Linked DNA regions of Homo sapiens. The protein of the gene in region 6 purifies or fractionates together with the protein of the main gene of each other region. This does not show direct contact. Each region holds a gene or a part of one and is shown on either strand. Other genes may lie near its edges.

Region 1 (4,379 bases), on a different chromosome or scaffold from region 6:
ATTGGAACATTAATCATTATGTTTTTGAAAATTAAATATTTCCTGCAAAGCAATTCCTTTGCAAAATGCTAAGCTGCCAATGAGCTTACCACAATAGAAATTGAGTCATTTCACAAAGTACCTGTTCAAAAGTTATAGAAACCTGGCCTTCCATTCCAAATTCACTGCAAAGAGAGTACATGCAGTAGTCCTGTTTACAATTTAATAGAGATGAGGAAAGGGTACACCTAGGACAAAGAGGGTCATCACCCTACATACAAGTTTACAGTAGTGTAACCAGAATGTATATTTACTATATTCACCACTTCAGATAAAGGAAGAGGGAGGCCCTTCACAACACTAGAACAAAGGAATGTTTGTTTTATATAAGACCTACCAAAAAAACAGGGAAACAAATAACACACATAGGCACTAGTCTCAAAGCTGCACAATAAAGAAGCAAAGGGTTTGAGATGAGAAATTCAGGAAAATATACACATAGGAGCTTGCTGAGGAAAAGGAAATCACAGTTGTAATCTTCAAGGCTTCTAATCTTCAAGGCTACGGAATGCATTCTGCATGTCTTCAAGAAGTTGTGCATAGTCGCTTTTGATCTTTGCCTCACCATCTTTCAGTGGATCCTGAAAGAAGACATTACAAATTCAACTCGCATTTGGAAAATAATTTTCATTACGTATGTTAAGTTACTTTTTTTTTTTTGGAGGCAGAGTCTTGCTCTGTCACCCAGGCTGGAGTGCAGTGGCACGATCTTGGCTCACTGCAACCTCCACCTCCTGGCTTCAAGTGATTCTCCTGCCTCAGCCTCCCAAGTAGTTGGGATTACAGGCGCCCACCATCACGCCCAGCTAATTTTTTTTTTCATATTTTTAGTAGAGACAGGTTTCACCATGTTGGCCAGGCTGGTCTTGAACTCCTGATCTCAAGTGATCCACTTGCCTCGGCCTCCCAAAGTGCTGGGATTACAGGCGTGAGCCACTGCACCTGGCCCAGGTTACTCGTATTTTATATATTTTGAGTACTAGGTTTAGTGAGGGACACTGGTAAACCACAGGCAGGAGGTAAAACTATACTCATTTTCCCTTTTTCTTAAGGATACAAATCCAACCAAACAGAAAGAAAACAAAATTTTAATTTTGCATTTTGCCTGATAACCACATTCAGTGACCAAAGCCTTTATCCTCAACAATGTGCACAATAGTGGGAAATTATGCCGCTTCATATATTAGATGAACATGACTTAATGCATGATAATTAGGAATTAATTTAATCAAAACAGAATTTGCTCAACATCTGGTATTATCACACTGGGATGGAAAAGTAAAATTTAGGCAACTTACTGAGTAATATGTATAAAAGATAATTTAGCTAGGCTTGGTGGCTCACGCCTGTAATCCCAGCACTTTGGGGGGCCGAGGCAGGCGAGTCACAAGGTCGGGAGATTGAGACCATCCTGGCCAACATGGTGAAACCCTGTCTCTACTAAAAATACAAAAAAATTAGCTGGGCATGGTGGCGTGCACCTGTAGTCCCAGCTACTTGGGAGGCTGAGGCAGGAGACTCGCTTGAACCCAGGAGGCGGAGGTTGCAGTGAGCTGAGATCGCGTCACTGCACTCCAGCCTAGTGACAGAGTGACACTCTGTCTCAGAAAAAAAAAAAAAAAAAAAAAGAGACAGACTTTAAAATGTTCCAGGTCTCTAACCCAATCATTCCACTTCTGGGACTCCATACTAAGAAAATGCACAAAACCAACTACACACAACTACATGGTTGTCCACACCAATAACTGGAAATTTTCTTTTCTTTTCTTTGTTTTTTTTTTTTTTCAGACAGAGTTTTGCTCTTGTTGTCCAGGCTGGAGTGCAATGGTGTGATCTCAGCTCACCGCAACCTCCACCTCCCGGGCTTAAGTGATTCTCCTGCCTCAGCCTCCTGAGTAGCTGGGATTACAGGCATGCACCATCACGCCCAGCTAATTCTGTATTTTTAGTAGAGACGGGGTTTCTCCATGTTGGTCAGGCTGGTCTAGAACTGACCTCAGGTGATCCACCCGCCTCGGCCTGCCAAAGTGCTGGGATTACAGACGTGAGCCAATGCGCCCGGCCAACAACTGGAAATTTTCTAAGTGTCTAAGAATAGAAAAATATTACTCTCCAGCCACAAAACAATGCTACAGAAGAGTAATGACATTAAAAAATACCTGTGATGTTAATTTGACACAATAAGCATGTAAATAGAAATCATCATTACTACAGGTATATTTCTTCTTCATCCTCTTTCTATGAATATATAGTTTTTTAAGACAATATTTGGATCAAGTTACATATGGAAGTTTTTTCACTCTGTGCCATAAGCATTTCTCCATGTCTTTGAATATTTTTGACAAAAATGGTAATGCCTTCATAATATCTATCTTATGGACACACCATAATGTACTGTTGGCTCTGTTCATTCTTGGGTGACATTTAAGAAATTTGGTTTAGCGTAGTGGCTCATGTCTGTAATCCCAGCGCTTTGGGAGGCTGAGGCAGGCAGATCACCTGAGGTCAGGAGTTCAAGACCAGCCTGGCCAACATAGAGAAACCCCCGTCTCTACTAAAAATACAAAAATTAGCTGGGTGTGGTGAATGCACCTGTAATCCCAGCTACTTGGGAGGCTGAGGCAGGAAGAACTGCTTGAACCTGGGAGGGGGAGGTTGCAGTGGGCCAGGATCGTGCCACTGTACTCCAGCCTGGACAACAGAGCAAGACTCCATCTCAAAAAAAAAAAAAGAAAAAAAAAGAAAAAGAATTTAATAAACGACCGTGTATATCCGTATCAAAATTCTGATTACTTCCTTTGTTTATTTATCTCAAGGTGAAATGACAAGACTAAAAAGGTGTAAATGTTTTTAAACTCTCAATGTAGTGCTTACCTATTTGTACAGGTTTACTTTCAATCTATAGTGTGAACACACACACAAAATATATATATAATTTAAAAATTTTTATATTACATATACACTCAGAGAATCATTCTCAGTAGGTGGTTAGTAAATATGCCTGGATGTCATGACAGAAATAAATACAATTCAACTGATCAAATATTTTAAAAACAATCTTATACATTTGAGTTCCTACTAATAATTTCATTTAATTATCTATTTTTATCTTGTGTACTTCCAAAAGAACAAGAGGCCACTTAAAAGTTAAAAAATGGCTGGATGCGGTGGCTCACGCCTGTAATCCCAGCACTTCGGGAGGCCGAGGCGGGTAGATCACATGAGGTCAGGAGTTCAAGACCAGCCTGGACAACATGGTGAAACCCCGTCTCTACTAAAAATACAAAAAATTAGCTGGGCGTGGTGGCAGGCACCTGTAATCCCAGCTACTTGGGAGGCTGAGGCAGGAGAATCGCTTGAACCCAGGAGGTGGAGGTTGCAGTGAGCCGAGATTGTGCCACTGTACTCCACCCTGGATGACAGAGCAAGACTGTCTCAAAAAAAAAAAAAGTTAAAAAATGACCTGCAGTACATGATATTTAAAAGAAGTAAACAGAGAAGATGTCATTTCAGAAGAACACATGTGCTAGAGGTTAATAGGCACTTGGAGTAAGGCAACTGTTGCTCAGCTATGAAGTAAGCTCTAATTTGCCTGGCAACTAAGACAAAAGGGAATACACATCAGCATTTATTTTAGACGTGACATACTAATTTTTTTTGTTTTTTGAGACTGGGTCTCACTGTGTTGCCCAGGCTGGAGAGTAGTGGTGGGATCATGGCACACTGCAGCAGCCTTGACCTCAGCCTCCCAGATAGCTGAGACTACAGGTGTGTGCCCCACACCTGGCTAATCTTTTGTATTTTTTGTAGAGACGGGATTTCGACATGTTGCCCAGGCTGGTCTTGAACTCCTGGGCTCAAGTCATCCTCCTGCCTGAGCCTTTGAAAGTGCTGGGATTACAGGCATGAGAACCACTATGCCTGGCTGATATACTAATTTTTATCATTAGAATTCCTATTTGAACATAACTTTGAGGTCTCTACTGATTTTACAAAACCTGAACATGTGTGAAAATAACTGCAAGTTTTACAGCCCAGGTTTGGGACTCAAAATAGCTAGAAAAATTAAAAAGAAGCATTGCACTTTGTGAGGCCAAGGCGGGCAGATCACGAGGTGAAGAGATCGAGACCATCCTGGCCAACATGGTGAAACCCCATCTCTACTAAAAAAATCCAAAAATTAGCTGGGCGTGCTGGCACGCACCTGTCGTCCCAGCTATTCAGGAGGCTGATGCAGGAGAATCGTTTGAACCCAGGAGGCAGAGGTTGCAGTGAGACAAGATCATGCCACTGCACTCCAGCCTCGCAACAGAGTGAGACTCTGTCTAAAAAAAAAAGAA
Region 2 (4,049 bases), on a different chromosome or scaffold from region 6:
TCCCAACCCCTCCAGAGCATTTGTGTTGTTTGTGGACAGAAGACAGCAGGATGTAACTCAAAAACTGCCCCGGAGGCCGGGCGTGGTGGCTCACGCCTGTAATCCCAGCACTTTGGGAGGCCGAGGCGGGTGGATCACGAGGTCAGGAGATCCAGACCATCCTGGCTAACACGGTGAAACCCCGTCTCTACTAAAAATGCAAAAAATTAGCCGGGCATGATGGCAGGCGCCTGAAGTCCCAGCTACAGGAGGCTGAGGCAGGAGAATGGCGTGAACCTGGGAAGCAGAGCTTGCAGTGAGCCAAGATCACGCCATTGCACTCCAGCCTAAGCAACAGAGCAAGACTCTTGTCTCAAAAAAAAAAAAAAAAAAAAAAAAAAAATAGCCCTGGGCCAGGCATGGTGGCTCACACCTGTAATCCCAGCACTTTGGGAGGCCGAGGCAGGGGGATCACGAGGTCAGGAGATCGAGACCATCTTGACTTACTAACACAGTGAAACCCCGCCTCTACTAAAAATACAAAAAAAAATTAGCCGGGCGTGGTAGCACGCGCCTGTAGTCCCAGTTACTCAGGAAGCTGAGTGAGGCAAGAGAATCGCTTGAACCCGGGAGGTGGAGGTTCTAGCGAGCCAAGATCACGCCACTGCACTCCAGCCTGGATGACACAGCGAGACTATCTCAAAAAAAACAACAACAACAACAAAAACAGCCCCACATGCCTGTGGAAGACTGCAAAGAAGAAACTTGAGGAACTTAAGAAGCTGAGACCAAGACCGAGATCAAGTCTAGGCGTCTGCAGAGCCTAGCTCAGCTCAGCTTTAAAGCAGAGGGCAGGTGTCCGGGGTGGGGCGTGGGGAAGGCTGGTCACTGGCGCCTCACCTTGATGGGGATGCAGGCGTGGTCCTCCTCCAGGTCCTTCAGGCAGATCTCCAGGTGCAGCTCGCCGGCGCCCGCGATGATATGCTCTCCCGACTCCTCGATGATGCACTGAAAGGGATGCGGGTCAGCACCAAAGGGGTAGGCGGCTCGGAACAGGCGGGACCAGGCTCCCAGCTTCCCTTTAGCTAGGGACCCCGCCAGAACAAGATTTCAGGGAAGGTGCTGGGAAACTGGGACCAGCACAAACTCCTGAAGAAATGTTAAGTCCCACAAGCTACAGTGAACACGCGCAGAGCAGCCTAGGAGAGGGTGGTGGCTGCCTGGGCAGGAGTCTCCATTTACAGCCACAGCCAAGAACCCCTCCTTTCATGACCAGTCACCCCAATCCACCAACCACAGCAACCCACACAGCCACAACTCAGGACACAAGCCGTCCCCCCTCAGGGTGTCTGCTCCCAGCAGGTGCACTCCGTGCCCACCTGCACCATGGGGTCGGACTTGGCCAGCCGCTTCAGCCCCTCCACCAGCTTGGGCAGGTCAGCCGGGTTCTTGGCCTCCACGGCCACTCTGACAACAGGGCTGACGCTGAACTTCATCACCCGCATGTTGTGCGCGTGCTCGAAGGTGGTGATGGTGCCCGTCTTCACCAGGAACTGGTCCACGCCCACGAGGCCCACAATGTTCCCACAAGGCACATCCTCGATGGGCTCCACGTAGCGGCCCATCATCAAGATTGTTCTGGAAGAAGCAGAAGGCGGCAGCAGGCCGCAGGGATGGTTGTGCTGGACCCTGGAGGGCCAGGGCAGGTCCCTCCCGGAGTTGGTGGCCCTCCTGCCAGGTCCCAGGGCAGACTGGTGGCTTCCACAAGGCCCTGACTGCTGCGTCGGGGCTGTCAGGAAACATCCTCTTCAGAATCACTGCCCTCCTCCCTGGGTATGGGTCGACGGCCGCCACCCACCTGTGCCCAGGGACACAGATGAGCAGGGGTGTGCTGTGCCCTGGGGCTTGGAGCTTCTCCAGAAATGCCCTCACTGGGCTAAGAACAAAAGTTGTGGCTGGCACAAGTATCACCCTATATTCCTTCTATGCTCCTTACTTCTAGCTCCCGACTGAGGAGCCCAAGACTTGGAGCAGGGCAGGGCCCGCAACAGTGCCAAGGGGCCTGCACATCACCCAGCTGCTCACCTCTGGATTGGCTTCAGGTAGAGGTCCTCCTTCTTCCCAGGGGTATAGTTGGGCCCCATGATCCTGACCTTCAGGCCAGTGGAGACCAGCCCCGAGAAGACTCGTCCAAAGGCGTAGAACCGACCTTTGTCGGAGGTTGGCACCATTTTGGAAATATACATCATAAGAGGGCCTTTGGGGTCACAGCTTTTAATGCCTGAGGGACAGAGAAAACCCGCAAGCTTTATTCCAGTGCAGCTCAGCCTTCTGGAACCCTGCAACCCACAACCTTGGGCAACAGGAAGTCATCCGGCTGCATCTCAGGGCCCGGCCACCGGGACCACGTACCCATGGCAGCCTCGTCGTCCGGGGGCCCCTCGTACAGGAGCTCGCAGCGGTACTTCTGGGCCGTCACAGGGGAGGGCAGGTGGATGGTGATCATCTGCAACAAGGCGTCTCCGGCAGGCAGCCAGCGGCGCATCACAGCCTGCGGGGGCAGAGAGCGGTGCATGAGACACCTGGGGAGCCCAGGATGGCCCCACCCCGTACACGCTTCCTCTCTTGAAGCCAAGGAAGCCAAAGTCAGGACTAACGTTCTCCAAAGCACAGTCCCTTCTGGAAGGCGGCAAAGGCCATGCACACTCCTGCCAAGGCCCTCACCCACACCTGTCCCGGATGGGGCTGGCTGCTGGGATGTGTCTCCAGCAGCACCCAGAGTCTAAAGCGAAAGGGGCAGCAGCTGTCCCTGCCCAGCTGAGGACTTCAGCCCCCAGGCCTGGGCTGTCAGAGCATCCGGAAACAGCAGCCTGTGTTCCCTCCACCCCGAGGGCTGGGCCCAGGCCGCACCTTCAGCAGGGGTTTGCCTTCTTTGTCCTTGTCCTCGCTGTCCAGTTTGATGTCCAGTTTCTCTATCAGTTTTGCTGTCTCCTCTTTCTTGAAATTCATGATCGCATCAAACACCTACATTCCCCACCAAGAAACAAGAAAGCCCATTTGGGAACAGCAGGAGGAAGCCTGGCACTGCTTCCTGCTTGGAAGACTCAGGTCAGCGCAGGGGGACGCAGCACGGGAGCAGGAGCAGGCCTGGCCTGCCTACCACGGGCCCAGCCAGCTGAGCGGATCGGGAGCTGGAGGAAACCTCGTGGTGGAGCAGAGGAAAAAGCCCACTCTGACTCAGACAAGGACCCAAGTTCTGACTTACAAGCACTGAACCGCCAAAGCCACAAGTTATTCAACCCCCTCAATGCAGGAGAGGTCCCAAGGCTCTGGCTATGCAGTCCAGATCTTAAGAGAGGAGCCCTGACTCCACCTCAGTTAGGAGCTGTGCCTCCTCCCATCTCGCATCTGCCCCACAAGGAGACGGGCCCAGTCAGCCGACAGGCTACCGGCCGGAGCCCACAGGGCCGAGGGCCAATAGTCGCATCGGCGGGGTGCCTGGCGCAGCCCTCACTCACCTTGAAGATGGGGTCCAGGATCAGCTGGCAGAAGGTGCGTGGCAGCTTCTTCCCTTCGGGGCTGGTGGCTGACTTGCTGAACTTGCCGTTGGCTGGGTCAAAGTACCTGGCAAGGAGAGGCCAAGCCAAATCAAGTTAGGGTCTCCAGGGGATGACTTGGGGAGGGTGGTCGCCAAGGGGACATGCTTGGGCAAGACCTGGTGGGCTTGAGCCACGCTGTGAATAGCACACCACGCCCCTACGTCGCTGCCACTACCCCCAGGTGTCAGGAATCCCCCACCATATCCCGCGGGGCTCACCTGTCACCCCACAGCTTCTTCATCATGTCCTCTACTTTCTTGGCCCGCTCGGCAGGCCCCAACTGGCCCTCCCCCTTGGCGGCGAACTTGGCCACATACATCTCGGCAAACTGCTTCAGGGTGAAGGCCCACCCGTGGAGGCCAGACCCAAAGCCCACGGTACCGAGGACAGGATCGATCTGGAAGTGTGAGAAACGAGAAGCAGCCGTGAGGGCCCCTGCGCAGAGCCTGAAGCTACGGGCTGGGCGCCTTG
Region 3 (4,134 bases), on a different chromosome or scaffold from region 6:
GAGTCGCTCGGGGTGTCCATCCCTGTGCGGCCCTCACCCCGTCCCCTGTGCGGCCCTCACCCCGTCCCCTCTGCGGCCCTCACCCCGTCCCCTCTGCGGCCCTCACCCCGTCCCCTGTGCGGCCCTCACCCCGTCCCCTGTGCGGCCCTCACCCCGTCCCCTCTGCGGCCCTCACCCCGTCCCCTCTGCGGCCCTCACCCCGTCCCCTGTGCGGCCCTCACCCCGTCCCCTGTGCGGCCCTCACCCCGTCCCCTCTGCGGCCCTCACCCCGTCCCCTCTGCGTCCCTCACCCCGTCCCCTCTGCGTCCCTCACCCCGTCCCCTGTGCGGCCCTCACCCCGTCCCCTGTGCGGCCCTCACCCCGTCCCCTCTGCGGCCCTCACCCCGTCCCCTCTGCGGCCCTCACCCCGTCCCCTCTGCGGCCCTCACCCCGTCCCCTCTGCGGCCCTCACCCCGTCCGCTGTGCGGCCGAGTCCTCACCCTGTCCCCTGTGCGGCCGGGCCCCACCTGCACGGCTCTCTGGCCTTGGTTGCAGCCTCCCCACGTGGCTTCAGGCCGTTGTTTTTAGATTAGGATTCTGCCCACCTGCCGCCTTGTGTTGTGAGGCTCCAGGCATGTAGCTCTGCTGACACGTGTGACATTGGATCCCAGAGCTGCCCCGTGGGGCAGTCCTGAAAAAACCACGCAGGGCCCGGGGCAGCGCCACGCCCCTCACGGAGTGCACCATGCATGGGCCCTGCAGAGGACTGGTGGGACCGGCCCGGCATTTCCGGGCCTGAGGTGGGCGTGGGGGTTCCTGAGACCCCGGCAGGAGCTGCCTAAGGATGCGGGTTGGCCTGCGCCCCCCCGCCCCCCGCAGTGTCTGCCCGCACCTGAACCCCTGCTCACCCCTTCTCTCTCCTTGCAGCCTCACCTGGCCGTGGGAAGCAACGACTACTACATCTCCGTGTACTCGGTGGAGAAGCGTGTCAGATAGCGGCGTGACCCGGGCCCACCAGGCCACGGCCGCCTGCTGTACATAGTGAAGCTGTCACTCGCCGGGGCACGGGGCGTCGGCTGCTGCGGCCCCGCAGTGTGAACGTTGGCTGCTGCCTTAGCTGCTGATGACGGCAGGAGGGCCCTGCTACTCGCTTTTGTCTGTCTTCGCTGTCGTGTCTGGAATGTCAGGGAAGGGGAGGGCTCGGGTTGACGGTGGCTTCCCACTGAGCACCAGCATCCAGGTGCACCCCCGCGGCCACGGCGCCTCTGTCCCTCTCCTGTTCTGTGTTTCTCTGAGACGCTGAAAGGGGAAACACCTCACTTTATTTCCATGTAATCAGAGCATTAGCTGCAGAAAAACCCCCCGACAGAGCCCTGGCGGAGAGGCAGGCGCTGGGGCTCCTACGGGTCCCTGGGGCAGCTGTCCCCATCAGGCCAAGAGCGAGCGAGAGGCGCTGCCCCAGCCAGGCCCACCACCTCTCACAGTCAGTGCACGCAAGCAGGGACATTTCCTAGCCAGCTGGGGGACACTGGAAATTCGGGAAACCAAGAGAGAGGAAGAAGGAGACGCCCCTCCAACTGGCGGGTGTGAAGGAAGCCGCCCAGGGGTCCGGGCTGTCCTTGGCCGCTGGCAGCATCACTGAGCAGGAAGCGCACAGCCCACCCTCCCCGCACCTCCAGGTCTCTGGACTCCAGTTTTGGCCCCTCTCACACAGAGCTGTCAGCAGGGGCCGCTGTGGCGGTGCACAGGGGAGGCAGGTCCTTGGCGAGGTAGCCCCTGCCTTAATCCACGGGGCTCCTTTCCCTCCGAAGGGCTGCTCTTCCCCACAGGCGCGGGGACAGCAGCCCGACCTGTGGTCTCCATGCCTGTGCCCTCACACAGGTGTAGCACACGCATGTGCAGATGGCACCACGGCCGGCACCTGGGGGCACACACATGCAGGCGGCGTGGTCTCCCTGCTCTGTCCCCACACGTTCCTCACATACAGGCAAGAGGCACTGCCGGGTCCCGGACGGCTCCGGGTGACACCAGCCCCGTCTCCAGCCTTGAGCCGCCCATGCTGATGCGACCTCGGCTGACAGCTGGGCCTGTGGTGCAGACAGGAGCTGTGTGGACAGTCCCGCCCAGGAGGGGCCGCAGGGCGTGTATGAGCAGTTTTGCAAACAGAACACAACCACAATGATGGTATTTTGAAAAGTGTTCTTTCCGTGTTCGTCGGGAATCAGGATTATTGAGAGGTGAAGGAGCCAGGTGGCTTCATTCTGGCGGTGAGAGGCCCACGACCACGGGAGTGAGAGCTGGTGTGGCGAGGCCCGGCTCTCCTGCGGTGTGGCTGGTGGCCTGCCGTGGCCAAGAGCATCTTCTGGGTGGATGGAACCCTGCCTGGTCACATTTGGCCAGAGACACACCTGGCCCTCAGGGGGCTGAGCTGGAGACTGAGCTGGGGCTGGCCGGGACGTGACAAGGCAGGACAGAGGCGGCCCCTCCGCTGCTCCTTTTTGGAATGCGAGCTCCCACCAGAAGAAGGTTCCGGCACGAATCCCATCCCCACGTCTGGGCCGAGAAAGCAGCCCGGGTCCGGAAGGTGTAGAGAGTCCCGGCCTCACTCAGCTCACAGGGCGTGCCAGGCGGCAACACCAGAATCTTCCAGAAGCCCAGCTCCACCCGCACACGCAGCTTCCCATCCAGTCCTTCAACTCAATTCTTACCCAACACGCGTTTCTGTTTGTTTTGAGACAAAATCACCACCTGTCAAAAGGCAGGTGGCTCCAGAGGGGTCAAGACCCCCCCCCGCCCCCGCTCCACCCTGGAGCCCACCCCCATGGGCACCGCGTGCCGCCTGCACGTGGGCTGTCTTCACAGGTCTGATGTGAAAATTCAATCACGACGTTAACCGGCTCGAGAGAGCGCCGGCCTAGAGGCTCATTATCTATTTATTTTACCAAACGCGAATTGAGACGGACTTTGACAAAACACGAAATGGTAATGTGAAGCTAAGAGCAGAGAGTGACCAACAGTAAACAACACGCGCAGACTCCGCGGCTGGCGGCTGTGTCTTTAAGGAAACTGCCCACCCCACCTCAGGGGGGCATCGGTCAGAGCAGAGCTCTGGGGGGTGGGGGGACGTTGCCCGGGTCCCCCCTGCTGTCCCCAGGGCCACCAGCAGCTCTGCGTCCCGGGTGCTCTCCAGGCAGGCACTGTGGCCACAGGGGGCCTGGCACGTCGAGTGTGCAAAGGTCTCGGTCCTTTTCTCCCAGGCAGTGCCCCCAGCCCTGTGGCGCAGACCCCACATCAGGGAGCGTACTGTGTGGCAAGAGCCATCTTGTGACGTAGGCCAGACACGTGTCTTTCTCTTTAAAATGACGGTTATCCTCTCACGGTTAGAGGCCCCATTCAAGTCTGCATTGAAATCTGGGCCACGTCAGAGTTCCTGGGGGAGAAGCCGCTTCCCCGCTCCTCCCCACTTCTGGAGGCCCCCACTCTCCTTGGCTCGTGGCCCCTTCCTCCAGTTCAGGGCCTCTGACCCACGCCCACCGTCACCACTTCTCATGCAGGCCAGAAGTGTTTCCAGGCCTAGGGGCCGTACCCACCTCGGGCTGTGTGGGTCCTTAGCCCTAATCACATCTGCACATCCCTCTGGCCAACTCTTTTTGGGTTTGCTTTTTGTTTTGAGATGGAATCGCACGCTGTCACCCAGGCTGGAGTGCAGTGGCACGATCTTGGCTCACCTCAACCTCCACCTCCTGGGTTCAAGCGATTCTCCTGTCTCAGCCTCTCAAGTAACTGGGATTACAGGTCTGTACCACCACACCCAGCTAATTTTTATATTTTTGGTGGAGACGGGGTTTCGCCATGTTGGCCAGGCTGGTTTCGAACTTTTGACCTCAGGTGATCCACCTGCCTCAGCCTCCCAGCGTGAGCCACCACGCCTGTCCCCGTCTGGCCAATTCTTGAAAGGCTCCCGTTTCCAGATCACACTCTGCTCTGCAGGTCATGGCCTGTCCCTTGAGGTTTTTCCCAAGCAGCAAGGTCCGTGCAGGGATTGGGAGCCAGGGGGAATGTTGTGGAAGCCACAGCAGAGGCAACGGGCCTGGGCATGGTCCTGCGGGGCGAGTGGGAGGCAAGGGTCCGTGGGGATGGTCATGTCAGCCACAC
Region 4 (4,618 bases), on a different chromosome or scaffold from region 6:
CTCCTTTATCTGTTCACTGTTTCTTACCCTCCTAAGAATTTTCACTGTGCCTCTCCACCTATCGTAAACATCATCTCTACTAGACCATCAGCTTTCTTTCCCTCTACTTTTTGGGTTTGATTTGAAATACATACAGTTTCTTATCACAAAGGATACTGGCCTGACTCCGTCATCCTTCCACACAGCTTTCTGAGCCAAGTCTGCTCACTGAGGCACGGCCCCACCATCTCCAGCCCTCACCTCCACAATCGCCATGGGGTCCTGAAGTATGGAAAGCTTCTCCTAGCTCTACGCTGCCACTTCTAAACTACAATTCTCCTGCATGCAAATACCACTTATTTTTCTTTAGGTTTATGCCTTCTGGATATACCATCCTTTAAACCAGAGTTTCTTAACCAGCGGACCATGACAGAATTCAGAGAGTCTCTGAACTTCAATGGGGTAAAAAAAAAAAAATTACACATTAACTTTCGCTAAATTTGTCAACATTTTCTCCAATGTAGTATGCACCATTAGTATTCACTGTACCTAACTTTTCACCAATAGAACATATAAATGTTTTCATATCACATTGTAGTTGTTGCAAATATTTTAAAATACCATTTATGATCATTGCTATTTCAATGCTACAGTAGTTACGTTATAAGATGTGCTTCTAGATTTTTTTTTTTTTTAATCTTTTTGAGACAGGGTCTCACTCTGTCACCCAATCTGGAATGCAGTGATGCAATTATAGCTCACTGCAGCCTTGACCTTCTAGGCTCAAGTGATCCTCCTGCCTCAGCCTCATGAGTAGCTGCAGCCACAGAGGCACACCACCATACCCAGCTAATTTTTTGTATTTTTGTAGAGACAGGGTTTTGCCATGTTGCCCAGCTGGTCTCAATCTCCCAGGCTCAGATGATCTACCCTCCTTGGCCGCCCAAAGTGCTGGCATTACAAGCATAGGCCACTGCACCCAGCCTTAGATCTTGTTATTTATACATTAAAAAGAAGCACGTTATATCACAAGTTTCTATTTAATATTTTCTTAACTGTATCAATGAAATTCCTTTTCTTTTCAATCCTGTACTTTAAAAAAAAACAAACACCAATGTCCTGAGAGGGAACCTAGGGACTTGGCCAAATGCCAAAATTGTTTGCCTGTCTTCCCTGCAAGGTAAACTGCTTCTTGTACTCAAATTTACTGATCTCTTCGTTACTCCATCTTATATACGGGAAAATTCTGGAGTCTGGTCAAAGCCTCTTGCCACTCCAAGTATTCTCCATGCCTCTTAACATGCTTCAGTATTAAATGGACAATTCACTTAACCTGACAGCTTCCTGAACCTTCTGGATTCCAGTGACCTTCATCTCCACTCCACTCAAACACCCATTGCACAGCCACTAAGATCCTGTTATTTGAAACCAAACCAACTCTAAAATCTTAAGTCATGTTTTGAGACGATGATCAGTGTTTCTCTTCATTCCAACTGCATTCATCACATTGGAATTATGACCTCCATGCATAAAACCCATATAATAACCCATTGTTGAAATGCCGGGATCGCCTTTACACCGAAATGATACTGACCACTTCATCACTGTATTTCAATCATTAATTCCCTCAGTCATACCCAAGAACTGGCTTAGAAACTTCTCTCCCCAAAATCTTACATGCACTTATTTTACTTTCTCACATTTTTTTCTAACCAGTTCCTGCATAGACTCATGTCCACTCTACCAGCCCTCCAACCTCAGAGACTCCAGACCCATCTCTCCTTACTAGTCTAGTCTATTGGCTGTCTTTTGGTATCTTATTTTTTTTTCTCCTTCCCTACAAGCTTAAATTCATGACTGATCATTCAAAACAGCATAAGCACCTTTTAGATTCCTGATGTACATATAATTTTATCTCAGCCCAGCAAATCCCAACCCCAAAGCAATGCCAAAGTGTATTTGTTCCATTTTCATTCTGAGATTGCTGAGAAATGCTAAGGGAAAAGAAAAAAAAGAAATCACATAACTATCCAGAATGTTATCATTACAAATTAAAGGTCTTTGGTTTTGGATGGACCCTAGTACCACTTATTGGTTTTTTTGTTTTGTTTTGTTCTTGGTCAGTTGTTTTTCACATCCTCATGGTCACTACTCCAAATATGGCATACTATCTCAAGCCCCTATTCAGGGAAGTCCATTTCTTTTCTTTTCTCTTCCTCCAAATTTTTTTGTAGAGACAAGGTCTCACTATATGTCGCCCAGGCTGGTCTTAACACCTGAGCTCAAGCGATTGGCCTCCCAAAGTGTTAGGATTACAGGCGTGAGCCACCATGCCCAGCCAGTGAAGTCCATGTCTATTTCTTTTCCATCTACATTAGAACACTGAGGCCATTGGCTGGGTGTGGTGGCTCACGCCTGTAATCCCAGCACTTTGGGAGGCTGAGGTGGGCGGATCATTTGAGGTCAGGAGTTGGAGACCAGCCTGACCAACATGGTGAAACCCCGTCTCTACTGAAAATATAAAAAAATTAGCCAGGCGTGGTGGCGTATGCCTGTAGTCCCAGCTACTCAGGAAGCTGAGGTTGCAGTGAGCTGAGATTGCGCCACTGCACTCCAGCCTAGGTGACAGAGCGAGACTCTGTCTCAAAACAAAAAACAAAAAACAAAACAAACAAAAAAAACCAGGTCATCAGGTATAATCTTTGATTTTTCTGGCCCCTCTTGCCACCTCTTCCTGCTTGCCTCAAAAGTAACTTCATTTATACTCATCATCTTTTTAACTTTTCTTGCAGTCTTATGGGGATCCCTCTTATTTCTTTTCTATCTTCTACTTTTGACTCCTCCCATGCTCATCTTACAAAGTGAGAAGTGACTTTAAAACAGTGATACTACACTCATTGTAGTCTGTCTGTGGGAGGACACATCCTCTCAATACCATGCCTTTCTTCCGTATTATTTAAGACCTGGTGAAGGCACTACCTTTTTGAAGAAACTCTCCGTGGTGATCCCATCTCGATCTTGAGATTGGATTAGACACAGACATGTCATGTCTTTAACATCCTGAACACAGCACTTATCACAAAATATCGTAATTATTTTTGCTGTACCCCCTAAGGCCAGAGTGAATGAATTACTCTGGAGCATAAAACAACTTAAAATTCCTTGAAGAATTTATTTTGCTCTTAAAATATGAGGATGTATTTAACAATAAACTTTAAAATGAATAAAATTATAGACTCCAGAAAAGGCTGATGCCTAGGGTTCTGTGACAAACATGGGAGTATTGGAGAATATTCTAAAGACTCTCATTTGCTTTTTATCAAAGAAGGTATGCTCCTGTTTGTAGCACAAAACAAATATATAACACTAAACTGTAAGTCATAACTAAAATAACTGAATTGGCTATAATTTTCATATTATTTTTACAACTTTTTATTTTAGCCTTTTAAATAAAATTCCTACTTTTTATTAGGTTAAAACTAGTATCATGTGCAGACTAGACTCTCCATGTTCTTGCTGCTTTGAATTTGGCCACTATGTTTGTTAAAAGCCGTGAAATTTTTACTTTTTACTTCATTTAACAACTGAATTTCTATGTCAGCAGACACTGCAGAACCAACTATGCAGATTTATAAAGAAAGATAACTTAGAGATGTCAGTAAGCAGGGAAATCATTCCAAGTTACCTAAGGAGATATCCGACCCCTTGAAGGGCTATGGAAACACTCTTCTCATTAAACCTATATTTGAGCCATGACTAACAGTAACTAACCTAAGGATTCACCTAAATTAGACTTGAAAGAATCAATGAAAAAAAGACACTTTACTTACTGGTGGCAGGAGTGTATTATTAATCAAATAGGGAAGAATTTGGCATGAAAACAAATATAGTTAGCCTTTCATATCCGTAAGGCAACCAAGTATGGATCGAAATATTCGAGAAGAAAAATGGAAGGCTGTGTCTGTACTTAACATATATAGACTATTTTTCTTGCCATTATTCCCAATACAGAATGACAACACAGTTATAACAGTGTAACAGCTCTTTACATAGCATTTCCATTGTATTATAAGTAATCTAGAAATGATTTAAGGTATACAGGAGGATGTGTGTAGGTTATATGCAAATAGCATGCCATTTTATATAAGGGACTTGCTGGAACCAATCCCCCAAGGGATGACTCTAATGTAACAAGGCCAATGATACAAATAACATATATGCAGATTATGGATAGCATACTAAAGGTATAAATACTCAGCTGAGTTTTGAAACTTTTAGTTACAGGTGATTAGATATTCCAAGTAAATTTTGAAAAGCTTTTTGATATATAACGGATATACAATAAATTATAAAGTGCATAAATTGATGAGTTTTGACATGTGTGTACACCTGTGAAGCTGCCACTACAATCAAGATAATCATCCTCAGCCGGGTGCAGTGGCTCACACCTGTAATCCCAGCACTTTGGGAGGGTGAGGTGGGCAGATCACCTGAGGTTGGGAGTTCGAGACCAGCCTGACCAACATGGAGAAACCCCGTCTCTACTAAAAATACAAAAAATTAGCTGGGTGTGATGGCAGGTGCCTGTAATTCAAGCTACTCGGGAGGACTTGGGAGGCTGGGGCAGGAGAATCGCTTG
Region 5 (4,618 bases), on a different chromosome or scaffold from region 6:
AGAAAAACACAAATTATCATCAGAACAGAGAGAGGCTGCCCCCACCACAAATCTCCCCTGATTCGGAGCTCAGTGGGGAGCAGTGTCCCCGCCCCAGATCTGTTAGCATAGAGTTTTACTTCCTGGCAGCTAAGCCTTCATGCACGGAGCTCCCTGACACTTGCTGAGGGTGACTCCGAGTCCCTCCTGCACCCGCCCTAGGAACTGGAGTCAGGTGCTTCGGGAGCCCCGTGGGCCAGTCTCCCTTTCTACCACCAAAATCTGCCTGCCTCTGCGGCAGGACTCAGTCTCACAAGAAGAGGCCATGAACAGGGAACAGGGGACTGTGGGGAACTCCCTGAACAGCCATGAACGAACTGGCACCTGTGCCAAATGTAACCCAGGAGGGACACTGGGCCTCCTGCCTGTTGGGGAAGTCACCTGTCAATGCCACCCCTGAGTCTCTCCACTGGCTGTGACTTACCCAAGTGGTTTAGGAAAAGGAAAGTCCTGCTTAGTTACCATTTTAAACAAACCCAATCAGAAATAAGCAAAATGTCAATTATCAGTAGGCTACATAAAGGAAGGTGTGTTCCCATAACACAACACCCATAAAAGCAACAAAAACGACCCAGTGCTTCTCGATACCGCAATGCGACGAACCTCCCGAAGATACTGCTGAGGAAATTCTTACCAGGCACGGGAGTGTGTGCTCTAGAATCTGTTTATGTATCACGCAAAAGCAGGCAAAACTGTTTTATGGTGTCAGAAGACACGACAGTGATTTTCTATGGGACACAGGTGCTGGCTGGGGTGGGTGGGCTTCCGGGATGCCGGGCATGTTTCAATTCTTACCTGGGTGCTGATCACACAGTGTATTGACTGTGAAAGTCATCAAGCTGGCACTTCATCATCTGTGCACTTTGTATGTGTGTTTCAACAGTTAAACTGAAGCCGACTTTCTTTTATAGAAATCTACATACAAAGAAGCCAGCTCCCTCCTCCTTCATGCTACAGCAATCAATCCACTTTTTGCTACATCTTTTATCTTCTAAATTAAGAAAGGAATGTGACTGCTATGTAAAGTCCTGTACCTTGATCACAGGGACTCGAGGTTTGAACCTGGAGGACAGCTGAGTGAGGACCTCGCCAAGTAACTGCTGGTGTTTCAGAACCTTCCTCATCTTCATGATTCTCACGATGGCCGCCTATGCAACAAGATAAGGAAAAAGAAGTGCATTTAGAGCTGTAACAACGTTGTATTGATAGTTAAGGACAAGCTGCACAGAGGCTGCCGACGCCTATGCACAGGATCACAATTTCCTAACAGGCAACAAACATCCTGCAGGTGAGACGGGAGAGGGAACCAATTCTACCTGCCTATGTTTCAACTCTAACGTGGCAAACATTACAATGTTTGGGTCTTTTGAGCAATTTTACCTCAATAATTTAACTCAACCATAAAGCATTAAAAAAAAGGAGACAAAATTAAATCTTCAAGGCCACGGAAGCTGCCCATCCTCCCCACTGAAGAACTCTCCTTCCCCCTCATTTCAGCCAAACCTGCCACAATGTTTGCTTTCCAACATTTAGAGCAAGAGGACTGCCCTGTTTTGCCTGGTGACATAAAGGACTAATTCAGATAACAAGGCCCTGGCTCTCGGCCTTGCCACCTTCTGCCATCACAGACCCATTCATCTGGCAATCACTCCTTTGTCACCCCCGCCTACCCCCCACGGCCCGTCCTTGCGAGCCATCCCTGCGTGAGGGACAGCACACCTGGCACAGGCATACAGATAAGTCACCTGAATCAGTAGTTTGCGGTCTTCCTCGATGTTTTTGTGTGTGGTTTCTTGTTCCTGCTTCTGTTCGGTTTTCATTGGCACATTGATGTTAACCCTTAATTTCTTACTATCAAGAAAAATGAGGAAACCGATCACTATTATATTAAAAGGTAGGCAGTGAAGGCTGCTTTCTATTTTTCAACCTTTAAGAAGTGCCCTGCTTCCCTAGACAGAGGGGAGAATGTTGATTTCTGTGAGCTCTCCGTGAAAATGTCCTCTACCCAGCACTGGGTAGAGTCCGATCATGGCCTAGTTTCCTACTCGGCCATTAACAGGGACATCCACATTACAGAAAATCCAGGTCCCTAATCTGCTCTCCCAAATTTTGTCAAGTGAGATAAAATCAAGCCACTTGGACACAAAGGTCCAAACTTTCTTGGTGAGCCATTTAAGGAGACTTATTTGCCAAAATAATAAAAATCCCAGAAGCTCAGAATTGGAGAAACATCAGGCTCGCTGAATGGAATCAAAGGCCTACCTCACACTCCCAGCCTAGTGCCTGTCGCTTCACACTGAGTCCCCGGTCTCCCTTGGTTTGTAACAATACTGAGATCCGTGCTAGGGCTCCCGGGGGACGTGTCTATGGTCAAGGGCCATCTACTTATTAGATTTTTCTTACTTTTTATAACCAAGATATAATTTTATTAAGGTATCTGGCTTCAATTCCACCTCATCAACATTTGCATTTTCATCTTCCAAGACCTGTAAGAAAACAATTGTTACTCTACAATCTCAGGAAAAGGCTTCTTCTAGTGTAAGATAAAAGGGCGCAAACCTACCAATAGCTTCGACTTTAATAAAATCTGTAAAACTTGCGCCAAAATGTCCTGCAATTAAAGAGAAAAAGAGGAAGTTAAAGGGAAAATGCATTTTTCTTTGCAATAACCACCACAGGCAACCTCACAGTCCATTTTCCATTAAAAAAAAAAAAAAAAATCACCCAAAAGAAGAGTATGCTGGAAGGAAAAAAAAGTTGGTACTTCTTAGAAGTTCACTAAATTTACTGCTTCCTTCCACCCTGACTTCTAGAAGTGAAATCAACCCCTTTCTGGCCTTGATCACACAATAATAGAAATGAACAATTCTGTTATACTTAAATCAGGTTGAGTAACCCTTATCTGAAATGCCTGGGACTAGAAGTGTTTGGATTTCGGAATACTGCACTGGATTTACAGATTCAGCAGCCCTGATTGGAAAATCCGAAATTTCAACTGCGCCATGAGCATTTTTTTTTTTTTTTTTTGAGCATCATGTTGGTGCTCAAAAATGTTTGGATTGTGGAGCATTCTGGAATCTGGATTTTTGGATTAGGGATGTTGAACCTGTATTGGAAACCATGCACAATGAAATCTTCAGGAACTCTTCACTTCTTAAGTGCCTGACAGCTCATCTTGGACACTGATCATCACAAAAGAAATATTAAAGAGCTGCCCAGCAAGACTGAAAATAATGTCCTGCTCATGAGAACAGTGGGGCTCAGCGGCAGGCGACCTTGTCAACTTGCCTTTGATGCACTCAAGCACGTTGTGTGGCCTCTCATCTGTGAATGGTGGGTGTGGTAAACGCTTCCCAGCCCTCCTTCAGCCTCACAGCTTTATGATCCCATGAAATCCAAGGGACCAGCCTGAGGGCACTCACAGAGTCACACGGACTCTTACAACCCACGGGCAGTGGAGTCCTGTCGTCATAATGGGTACCCATTCTGGTCTGAGGATACGTGGTGAAAGCTGTCAAAGCGAGAGGCCTCTCTCTAGTCTAGTAACTGACCCAGAACTGCCAGCAGCCATTCGAATACTGCCCACTGCATCTAGAGCAGGGTGCGGGGGTGCCCACTTCCTGAGCCAGGTCTGATTGGACAGCATCTACTGTGGGCAGAAAGGAGAGAGCAGCGGCAGCCTCCTGAGGGAGTTCTAACACTGAGAACCACTCAGGAGACTGGCCTAAAATCCTGATCAGAAGCAGCCAAGCAAAGACCTGACAGTCCACACCTGTCAGCCCTGTCCTCAGGACCCGTCTGCACAGCCCTCCCCACAGTCTAGGGGGCAACCAGGCCTCCAACCTACAAAGGCACAAACTCATTTTGTTATTAGAATCTGAAGATATATTTAGGAGTAATTCGAAGAATGATTACAAAATAGTCATTCAAAATGACTTTCCTAACTCAGTCCATAAGGCCAGGATTAGCCAGACACGAAAACCAAACGAACATCTTGAGAAAACAATGGAGCAATATCCCTTATGAATATAAATGCAAAACTCGAGAAAATACCGGCAAGCTAAACCCAACAACATAGAAAAAGGATTATATACCATGACCAAGTGGGACTCACCCTAAGAACACCAGGGTGGTTCAACATCAGTGCAATACACCATATTAACAGACAAAAAAGCAGTTATTTTGACAGAGTAGAAAAAGCATTTTGACAAAATACAACACTCTTGCATGATACAAAATTCAATAAACTAAGAATAAAAGGGAACCTCTTTAGTCTGATAAAGGACATCTAGTAAAAGCTCACAGCTAACACCATCACTCTTTAACATCACAGTTAAACAGTAAAAGACTGGAAGCTTTCCCAATAAGGGCAGTAACAAGACAAGGATGCTTGTTCTTGCCACAAATTCTAGCCAGAAGAATCAGGCAAAAACAAAGACAAACAAAAAAGAAATAAAAGGCAGCCAAATAAGAAAAGGAAGAAGCAAAACTGCCTGTATTTATAGATGATATGACAGTATATCAAAAAACTCTAAGGAATCCCCCCAAAAACTATTTGAGCTAATAAATTAGAGCTAAT
Region 6 (4,618 bases):
AAAAAAAAAAAAAAAAAAAAAATAATTATATATATATATGTAATCCAATTAGAAAAGACATCAACAGATATTTCAGAGAGAGAATATATATTAATAGATGAAAAATAAGCACATGAAAAGATGTTCAACATCACAAGCCATTAGAGAAATGCAAATTAAAATGACAATGAGATACCACTACATACCTATCAGAATGGCTATTAATAAAATTAAAGGCCAGGTGCAGTGGCTCACTCCTGTAATCCCAGCACTTTGGGAGGCTGAAGCAGGTAGACTGCTTGAGGTCAGGAGTTCGAGACAAGCCTGACCAACATGGTGAAACCCCAGGCTCCCAAAGTGCTGGGATTACAGAAGTGAGCCACCGCACCCAGCTAGATTGCTAATATTTTTAATATTGTGTTTTGGAAGTTCTTTTTGCATTCTAGATACAAAATACAAATTTGTAAAAATACAAAAATTAGCCCAGCGTTACTGACGGGGCCTGTAATCCCAGCTATTTGGGAGGCCAAGGCACGAGAATCGCTTGAACCCGGGAGGCAGAGGTTGCAGTGAGCTGGAATCACACCACTGCACTCCAGCCTGGGCGACAAAGTGAGACTCTGTCTTAAAATAAATAAATAAATTAATTAAATTAAATTAAAAAGTAGCAACACTAAATGCTGATGAGGATGAACTGGATCACTCATACATTGCTGGTGGGAACTTAATATAAGATACTCTAGAAAACACTTTGGCAGTTTCTTTTAAAATCAAACATGTACTTACTATAGAACTTAGCAATTGTACTCTTGGGGTTTCATCCCAGAGAAGTGAAAATTATGTTCATGAGAAAACCTACACACATATTTCCATAGCTCCATTCATAACAGCCAAATATTGGAAACAACTCAAATGTCCTTCAACCAATAAATGGTTAAACTGGGGTACATCCATACCATGCAATACTATTCTGCAATAAAAAGGAACAAACTACTGATACATAGTAACTTGGACTGATCTTGAGGGAATTATACTTAGTGAAAAAAGCCAATCTCAAAAGGTTACATACTGGATGATTCCACTTATACAACATTCTTGGAATATCAAAATTACAAAATGGAGAACAGACTAGTGGTTGCCAGTGGTTACGAATGGCTAGGGAAAGGGAGTATATAACTATAAAACAGTTCTGTATCTTGATTGTGGTGGTGGTTACATGAAGCTACCTTGTAATAAAACTGCAAACAACTATTTATACACATACACACAGACAAGTGCTTGTAAACTCAGGAAATCCAAGTAAACTGTGGATTGTTCCAATGTCTATTTCCTCGTTTTTGATATTGTACTATAGTTATGCAAGTTGTTACCATCGGAGGAGGTTAAAGGGCACACAGGACTTCCCTATACCTGTGGACCTGTAATTATTTCAAAATAAAAATTAAGAGGAGATAGAAGGTAAGTCATCATGGTAATGCCAATTATTTGATGACTAATTATAAACACAAACTTGGATCTGATGGTAAAAAGATGGCAGCCTCTATGGAAGAAGAATAAGAAATGAAATGGTATGCTGTGCCTACTCTGTGTGAGTAAGTACCAGAAGAGATATGAATGTTAGACAGCATTCAAAATATTTTCAGTGTGAAAATATTTCAAAATTTTCCAGAATAAGGAAATGATTAATGCATTATTGTAAGCTGATCAATTCAAAATATAACAAAATACTGCATGAAATTAAGACCTCTGGAAAGACATTAACATGTGAGCAATCTTTTTGGTTCTATTAATAAATTTAGAAAATTCTGTTTTTTCTTTTTGGTTCTGTTAATAAATTCAGAGACACCAATCTTTTAGGAACCACATGAATCCCAGAGGTCTATAAATTAACAAAAGACAGCTCAATGAAGACAGTGTACCCACAGAGAAAAAAGCCATGCAGGAGTAGTGGTACCATCCAAAGTACCTAGAAGAAATTGTGAGAAATATATAAACTAGTATACTAGTCAAAATTTTTATTTTACAAGATATGTGTTTATGTCCCGAAAGTCTGGTTATAATGCCTACTTACTGTGTCAGTGAAAATTTCCATGTGCCAAAAAAAAAAAAATGTAATTTGTTACAATATCTATAATACTTAACTTTTCTTCTTTTGCCTGTTCTTGTTTTCCTTTGGTATCTGCCGATGTTTTCTGGAGAGAGCCTCTTGCTGCTCTGCAAGGTCGATTTTCTAAATTGCTAGAGCTTACACCTGGAGCAAGTTCAAACATCCACTGAGCTCGGAACATCTGGAGTTGTGCCTATGGGGAGAACAGCATTTTAGGACTCATCAAGGAAGGGTAGCTCAACTCTGGAACAATGTATCAATATGTCCAACATCTATCTACTTCCACGTATATACTTATTACTCTAAGTCCAGAAATCACTGTCTTCTGAATTATTAAATATCCATTAAATACATCTTTTAAAATAATTTTCTGCTCAAAACTTAAAGAATCAAGAAAATTAGCATAAAATACATGTCAGTACACCAAAAGTCAAATTATATTGGAAAACCAAATTTTAATTAGAATTGAAAATATAAGCCATCACTTACAGACTGAAGTTATAAGCTTCCAATAATTTTTTAATGACTATATCATCTAGTAGACATTAAGAATGCTGCCAAAAATTCTGTAGGTAAGCCCAAAATCTATTAACATTCTGTATTTCAAAAAGAAAATGTTTTTTCAAATATTTGTTATTTCAAAAATGTAAAGGCCAGGCACAGAGGCTCATGCCTATAATCCCAGCACTTTGGGAGGCCGAGGCAGACGGATCACCTGAGGTCAGGAGTTCGAGAACAGCCCGGCCAACATGGTGAAACCCTGTCTCTACTAAAAATACAAACAAATTAGCCAGGTGTGGTGGCGGGCACCTGTAATCCCAGCTACTTGGGAGGCTGAGCCATGAGAATTGCTTGAACTCGGGTGGCAGAGGTTGGCAGTCAGCAGAGATCGTGCTACTGCACTCCAGCCTGGGCAATGGAGCGAGACTCCATCTCAAAAAAAAAAAAAATTAAAAGCACATAAAAAGTGAACCCTATAAGGTAGACTCTGGTGTGTTGCCCAGATTCCCTTTCAGAAATAAAGAACTTGTTACCCAAACTGCTGAGAGTTCTATCTGAAAACACTTGAGTTGTCAGCCCTTTTGGGTATTGCCTCAGCAAAATCACACTGTCCTCTCAATCCCCACCCAATGACTGATCAACGGCTAATAAAGTCTTGGCTCTTTGCAACTCAGGTCATCTCTGAAAGGGTATTTCATCTTCAGAACTCCCTCGAGGATGGCTAAGCAGTCCATTAAGACTGCATTGCAGCTGGTCTTCTCCCTGCCCATTTGTTTCCCTCTCTCCCTTCCATAGGTGTTGATCCCAAGAATACTCCTTAATAAACTTCCTGCACAGCAATCTTCACCTAGTCTGCTTCCTGGGGAACCCAAACTGGGTTACACGTTCTGCCCAAAGGCAGCCATTGCTAACAGGGATGCATATGTTATTCCTGGCTTCCTTTTTTTTTTTTAAAAAAAGACGTATCTAGAATGTTTTAAATTAATTTTTCTCTATATTCTGTACACTGCTTTGTTGCTACGCTTTTAACCTGTTACACATAGATCTCTGACCTGCAGAATCTTTAGCAGCATTCAATGTCTACTAGATGAGCTGTTCCAAATAATTATTATTAACCTTACAAGTGCAGTGAGACACACTTAACTAGTTACAGCAACTTTTTTTCTCTTTTAATGTATAAAGATTTACTTCATCCTTTTAAATGGCTGTAGTGTTTTCACTGTATGGATGCATCATTACTTAATAACAGGTAATGAATATTTAAGTTGTATGATGTTTTTCCAGATAAACAATGCTATACTAAACATCTTTATAGTTGCATATTTACTTTCCCCACTATTTCCTTAAAATTAATTTCCTGGAAGTAGAATTGCTGTATCAAGGGAATGCATGTTTTTCATTTTGATCCATATCACCAGTCTGCCCTCCAGAAAGCTGTACCAATTTACATTTTCATGTACACTGCATGAGTGTTCTCACAGCTTGGACAGCGATGCACATTATTCACCAATCTGATTAAATTATTAATGAGGCTAATTATCTCTTCAAATATTTAATGGCCATTTGTATTATTTTGCCATTAACAGTCCACTCATATCTTTTTATCCTCTGTTCTTCCAAATATATGAGTGCTCTATGTAATGAGATGAATCCTCTGCCCATATATAATAAACAGTTTTTCCAGCTGGCTATTTCTCTTAACTTTATTTATGATGCCTTTTCTTATACACAGGTTTTAAACTTTTAGGTGGTCAAACCCATCAATCTTTTTAAGATTATGGGTTTTGAGTCATGCGTAAGCCTTAGTTTGAATACTTTAAACCCATGTTAAACTACAAGCAACCATTATTGATATTTCTTTTCACAAAGAAAGCCATAACATAGTTTTAAGTATTCTATAAACCAGTATGGAAACAGTTAAATTCCATGCAAACAGTAATAACCTACAAATACCCATGATTATGATCAATTTCTGCATATGTATGGGAACAATGGAATAAAAATCAAAGACACAATTGAAGAAACATGCCT
Region 7 (4,618 bases), on a different chromosome or scaffold from region 6:
CAAGAGGCTATTATTGCCAAATAATTATCTTAGACAAAAGCAAATTACAAATGTAACAAATACATTTAAATTCTAAAATTCAAATATAAATGTTAACATTGGCTAACTTTATATGAACCTGTCAGGATACTCACTCGATGGCACAGATTCACTTTCACTATTATGTCTAGAGCTGGTTGACTCCGAGTTCAAACTTAGAGTGCTTGGGATAGATGAAAGTTCATTACAGAGTTGTTCCACATCATCTGGAACCACTGGCCACAGATGTTTGCGACTATGCCTCACAGCATCCCAGTTGTGACATTTTAGAATATCACAGCCTTGTTTGGTTTTAGCTATGAGCCCAAGTACATATACACAGGTCCTGTATATAAAAGATGCAGTAAAAACAGTTATAATTCCAAGCTGAGATTTCTTAAAGCCACCACAGATTAATTTGCTATACATACTTTGAACTTTCTCTAAAACCCACCAAAATGGTTGCGTTTGTGGAAAAAAAAAAACTTATTAAGACTAGTCAGGAATAAATTAGCAGCAATAAAAAACAAGCAAACCTTCCCAATAAAAATAGTAATTACAACAAAATAAAAAGAACACAATGCAACATGAGCAAAAAAGGTATATTAGCTTTTCTAGTATAAATCTGGAACAGCTGGGTTACAGGAATACTGGAGTATCTGTACAACACTATGCCTTACCTGTTACCTACAAGGTAAACTTCAATATAATAAAAATCAAATTATAGTAGTAAACAAGGAGTTCGTTTAGATGTTTAACTTAATACAGTTAATAATCTTGTATCATTAGAACTTTCAGTGGATTAACAGTTATGCATTGCACTTAATCATAAAATACTTTCCCCTAACATCCATTTGTGAATAACAACGTCTACATTAGAAAGATTTCTGAGTTAAATGACCTACCCTCTGATGGAAAGAACTTCACACTGTTTTGCAAGTTTTAGTATATCTGGAATCACGTTTTCTTCCTGTAGCAAATTGAGACCCCAATTTGATGAGCCGATATTTCCCTGAAAGAAAAGAAATCACTTACATCAAATATAAGAGTCACTCTTTCAAAAGATTTGGAAAGCTACCAAGAAACAAATTTAACCTCATCTCTGAGAGAGAAAAAATGTAAAAGCCTCCTCAAGTACAAAACATTAGGCATGAATTAATTCTAGTTGTCTTAGCAACAAAACAAAAGTCATGAAACCAATAGTTCAACCATCTATTCTTCAACATAGAGATAATACACTTATATTGGCAGGAACAATCCAGTCTTAAATATTAATCTAATAAGTAGTTCCAAAGAAAATATTTATCTATTTAGTATAAATGAAAAAAAAACTTAAAAATCTAAAAATTGCGAAGATCTTACAGAAGTGTTTATTACAAACCAAGGCCCAAAGAGATGCTTTCAGTTTTTTAATTTCTTCCCACTTATCCAAATCTGGTGTACGAACATTACGACAGAGTTCTGTAATAATATTCTGGAGAAAGAAAAAAAAATACCATGAGTAATAATATATTTATGTATTTAATATATTATTATTGCATCATAAAACCAGTATAACGTTTGTTTTTTGTCATTTTTGCATATTTAAATTCTAAATAATTTTATGTAAAATTTCTTGAGAAGCAGCATAGGGCAGGGGTTCTGAATTCACATTCTAGAATTATCACTTATTAACTGCATGGCCTTGGGCAAGTTACTTCATCTCCTCATCCTTTGATTTCCTAATATCTAGAAGAGTGATAATAACATTTGCATCATAAGGTTTCAAGATTTAATAAATTATTGCACATACAGTGCTTACCAAAGTACTTGGCACTTAGTATTACTAAATAATCATACTTATTCTTTAAAACAGAAAGTAAATTAGTGCTTAGGTTTTATCATACTATGTAAGTAGTAACACTGAGAAAATCATTTAAATTTTTAGTGAAATTTTCAAATGTTAATATGAAAATACTTGTCCCAACAGTTTTCACAGACGTAATATAAAAACACATGAAACTATAGAGTACATTTATGCAAAACTTTGTGCTCTTGAGATGAATACTGATACAATCGGGAACTAAATTGTTAAATAACTATTGTTCTGTCACAAAAACAAATATTCCTATAACTTTATTTCTAAAATAAGAGAAACGTTACATTTATTGGAAACAGTTGCATGACATATTCACAACCATAAATGCGGTGTACATATTATAACTCAAAGAACAACTGCTTGCCTATGCTTGTTAACATTCCATGAAGTACGCGAGAATAAAATGTGCTCACAACCAGCAACTTTCAATTTATTGCTCAACAAGGATAACTTAATCTGTATTAGGTTCAGTTTAATTTCCCAATGAGTGGAAGAAAAACTCGGTTTTTCAGTACGTTTTTGGAGATCTGAATTTCTCCACTAAACTCTAAAAAAAGAACTCAGATCTTCATTGGATTGCTTACTCTACATAACAAGTTAGTTATTCAAAAAGTCATACACAAGTCAGTTAATGCATTGCAAGGCCATTAATATTTCTCAGGTTAATAAATATAGAATGCCTAAGTCAATTACAAAATAGATGAATTTAAAAGCAATTACACCACTGATATTAAAGCTTTTGAGAAGTTTTTGCAAAGGTAATATTTTAGCAATGTTAAGATTTTGTTTTTTTTTTACTATTGTAGCTACTTAAAATAAGTGAATTATGTTTTTACCTGTACTTCCAACAAATGGCAGCCTGTTTTATGGTGTACTAGTTGTCCATAAAGGTGTATAGGCAGGTAGACGTGAGGACGCTGTAATCTAGTATAATAAAGATGATTACTATATCTCTTGGCTAATTTAAATATGCTAATTAGAACAAAAGAATTTTAATAAATGTTTGATAAATAAAATTAGATACAACTCTCCAGCATAAATAAAAATATGAAAGTAACAAGGAATGAGGATTTCTCAGGTAAAATATAGGCTGGGCTTCCCTAATCCAAAATGATCCAAAATCCAAAACTTTTTGAGCACTGACATGACACTGTAAGTGGAAAATTCCACACATTAGTATTTAATGCAAACTATTTCATACAGAAAATTACTTATAACACTGCATAAAATTATGTTTAGGCTACGTGTATAAGGCGTATATGAAACAGATTAATTTCATGTTTAGACTTGGGTACCATTCCCAAGGTATCTCGTTATATATATGCAAATATTCCAAATCTGAAAAAATCTGAAATGCGAAACATTTCATCATTTTGGATAAGTGATGTTCAACCTGTAACAGTTTATCAGAGCTCAAAGTACTGGTAAGAGAATCTAGGCCTAGAAATACAGACTGGGGTGCCAGCATGGAGTATATGTGAATGCGTTATCAGTAAGGATATTCAACATGCCATGAATGCCACTGAATTTTTGAGCAATTAATGCTGCGCATTAAGATTCTTCCTATATCATGTTAGAAGCAGAATATACAAAAACTCAGAAATGTTAAAAATAATTTATGATGAACTAGTTTTAAATCTGATAACTGGGTACGCACCTTTGGTTACTCCGACGAACATAGTTATCACCATCAACAGGCTTCCGGTAAGTAGTAAGTGCTTCATTGAGTTGTTCCTCAATCAAGTCAACATATTTGGAGTTGTATTCCTAGAGGATAATATTGTTTTAATTGCACATAGTATCACAATGAGTCACTAAATTTAAAATATGTCAGATACTTAGCAAAGGGTAGACAGATCAAGGTATTATGAATGCAAATGTTCTATCATATCCATAAGCTTTTGGCTCAGGTTTCAACTAGTACTATATACTAATGACCCCCATATCTGCCATTTTCCTCACAAATCTGAGCTCCAGATCCACATTTTCAAGCCATCACGTGGTTACTGCACAGACAATGCCAGTTCAACATATTGAAAATTCATTAGCCTAATCTTGAATCACTTTTTATAAATGTGATCTCTTAATAGTGATCCATTATATATTGTCATTAAATTAGAAACCTTATGAGCCAAGTTGGACCTCTTATTTACTGTATCCAATCAGCCCACAAATTCTGTCCATCTTATTTTGAAAATACCCAGAAAATGCGTCCTCATCTAATCAACCTAACTACCAGTGAAGTTCAGGCACTCATCAATTCTTGTTTCTAAACTTGTGTCAATATTTCTAGACTTTACCTTCAATGATCAAAATTCCTCCTCTTCACTGCAACCTGTCAGATTACTAAAGCACAACTCTGATCACTCTTTAAAAGCTGTTAAGGATTCCCCACTATATATACAATTGAAATCCCTTAGGATGATATAATATGGCTTACGAGGCCTTTTACAATCTAGCTTTAATTTACCATTCCAGCCTCATCTTGCCACTCCACACTTACCTTAGTTCCAACTACATTGGAATATGACTTTCTTCATAAGTCTATAATGTTCCAATGATCTATACAGCTTTATTCTGCTCCTTCTTCCGTGGATACCCTTCTTCTAATTTATTTGCCTACTTACTCCTCAAGACCATTTCAAGTATCACATCTACGGCTCCTATTCAACATTTCTTTTGATAATCCCTAAGGCAGAATCATTAATCTCTCCTCTGTGTTCCCTTATACCTTGCATGTAA

Evidence for each region.
Region 1: the proteins of FBXO9 (region 6) and ATP6V1A purify together in Homo sapiens (affinity purification with western blotting; one study listed by BioGRID). This does not show direct contact.
Region 2: the proteins of FBXO9 (region 6) and EEF2 purify together in Homo sapiens (affinity purification with mass spectrometry; 2 studies listed by BioGRID and IntAct, with this or other methods). This does not show direct contact.
Region 3: the proteins of FBXO9 (region 6) and RPTOR purify together in Homo sapiens (co-immunoprecipitation; one study listed by IntAct). This does not show direct contact.
Region 4: the proteins of FBXO9 (region 6) and YAP1 purify together in Homo sapiens (affinity purification with western blotting; one study listed by BioGRID). This does not show direct contact.
Region 5: the proteins of FBXO9 (region 6) and CUL1 purify together in Homo sapiens (affinity purification with mass spectrometry; 4 studies listed by BioGRID and IntAct, with this or other methods). This does not show direct contact.
Region 7: the proteins of FBXO9 (region 6) and RICTOR purify together in Homo sapiens (co-immunoprecipitation; one study listed by IntAct). This does not show direct contact.

What each region holds. Positions count from the first base shown.
Region 1 is NC_000003.12:113,805,576-113,809,954, reverse strand, and holds part of ATP6V1A (V-type proton ATPase catalytic subunit A), read right to left. Parts: intron 621-4,379; coding exon 528-620; 3' UTR 1-527. UniProt on the Homo sapiens protein: Catalytic subunit of the V1 complex of vacuolar(H+)-ATPase (V-ATPase), a multisubunit enzyme composed of a peripheral complex (V1) that hydrolyzes ATP and a membrane integral complex (V0) that translocates protons.
Region 2 is NC_000019.10:3,978,450-3,982,498, forward strand, and holds part of EEF2 (elongation factor 2), read right to left. Parts: intron 3,976-4,049; coding exon 3,797-3,975; intron 3,604-3,796; coding exon 3,498-3,603; intron 3,004-3,497; coding exon 2,890-3,003; intron 2,531-2,889; coding exon 2,392-2,530; intron 2,261-2,391; coding exon 2,065-2,260; intron 1,618-2,064; coding exon 1,359-1,617; intron 988-1,358; coding exon 880-987; intron 1-879. UniProt on the Homo sapiens protein: Catalyzes the GTP-dependent ribosomal translocation step during translation elongation.
Region 3 is NC_000017.11:80,963,356-80,967,489, forward strand, and holds the end of RPTOR (regulatory-associated protein of mTOR), read left to right. Parts: intron 1-906; coding exon 907-975; 3' UTR 976-3,013; downstream 3,014-4,134. UniProt on the Homo sapiens protein: Component of the mechanistic target of rapamycin complex 1 (mTORC1), an evolutionarily conserved central nutrient sensor that stimulates anabolic reactions and macromolecule biosynthesis to promote cellular biomass generation and growth.
Region 4 is NC_000011.10:102,217,788-102,222,405, reverse strand, and holds part of YAP1 (transcriptional coactivator YAP1), read right to left. Parts: intron 1-4,618. UniProt on the Homo sapiens protein: Transcriptional regulator with dual roles as a coactivator and corepressor. Critical downstream regulatory target in the Hippo signaling pathway, crucial for organ size control and tumor suppression by restricting proliferation and promoting apoptosis.
Region 5 is NC_000007.14:148,795,844-148,800,461, reverse strand, and holds part of CUL1 (cullin-1), read right to left. Parts: intron 2,651-4,618; coding exon 2,603-2,650; intron 2,526-2,602; coding exon 2,443-2,525; intron 1,891-2,442; coding exon 1,785-1,890; intron 1,188-1,784; coding exon 1,074-1,187; intron 1-1,073. UniProt on the Homo sapiens protein: Core component of multiple cullin-RING-based SCF (SKP1-CUL1-F-box protein) E3 ubiquitin-protein ligase complexes, which mediate the ubiquitination of proteins involved in cell cycle progression, signal transduction and transcription.
Region 6 is NC_000006.12:53,071,142-53,075,759, reverse strand, and holds part of FBXO9 (F-box only protein 9), read right to left. Parts: coding exon 4,617-4,618; intron 2,280-4,616; coding exon 2,121-2,279; intron 1-2,120.
Region 7 is NC_000005.10:38,952,062-38,956,679, forward strand, and holds part of RICTOR (rapamycin-insensitive companion of mTOR), read right to left. Parts: intron 3,644-4,618; coding exon 3,534-3,643; intron 2,801-3,533; coding exon 2,713-2,800; intron 1,493-2,712; coding exon 1,400-1,492; intron 1,031-1,399; coding exon 924-1,030; intron 365-923; coding exon 135-364; intron 1-134. UniProt on the Homo sapiens protein: Component of the mechanistic target of rapamycin complex 2 (mTORC2), which transduces signals from growth factors to pathways involved in proliferation, cytoskeletal organization, lipogenesis and anabolic output.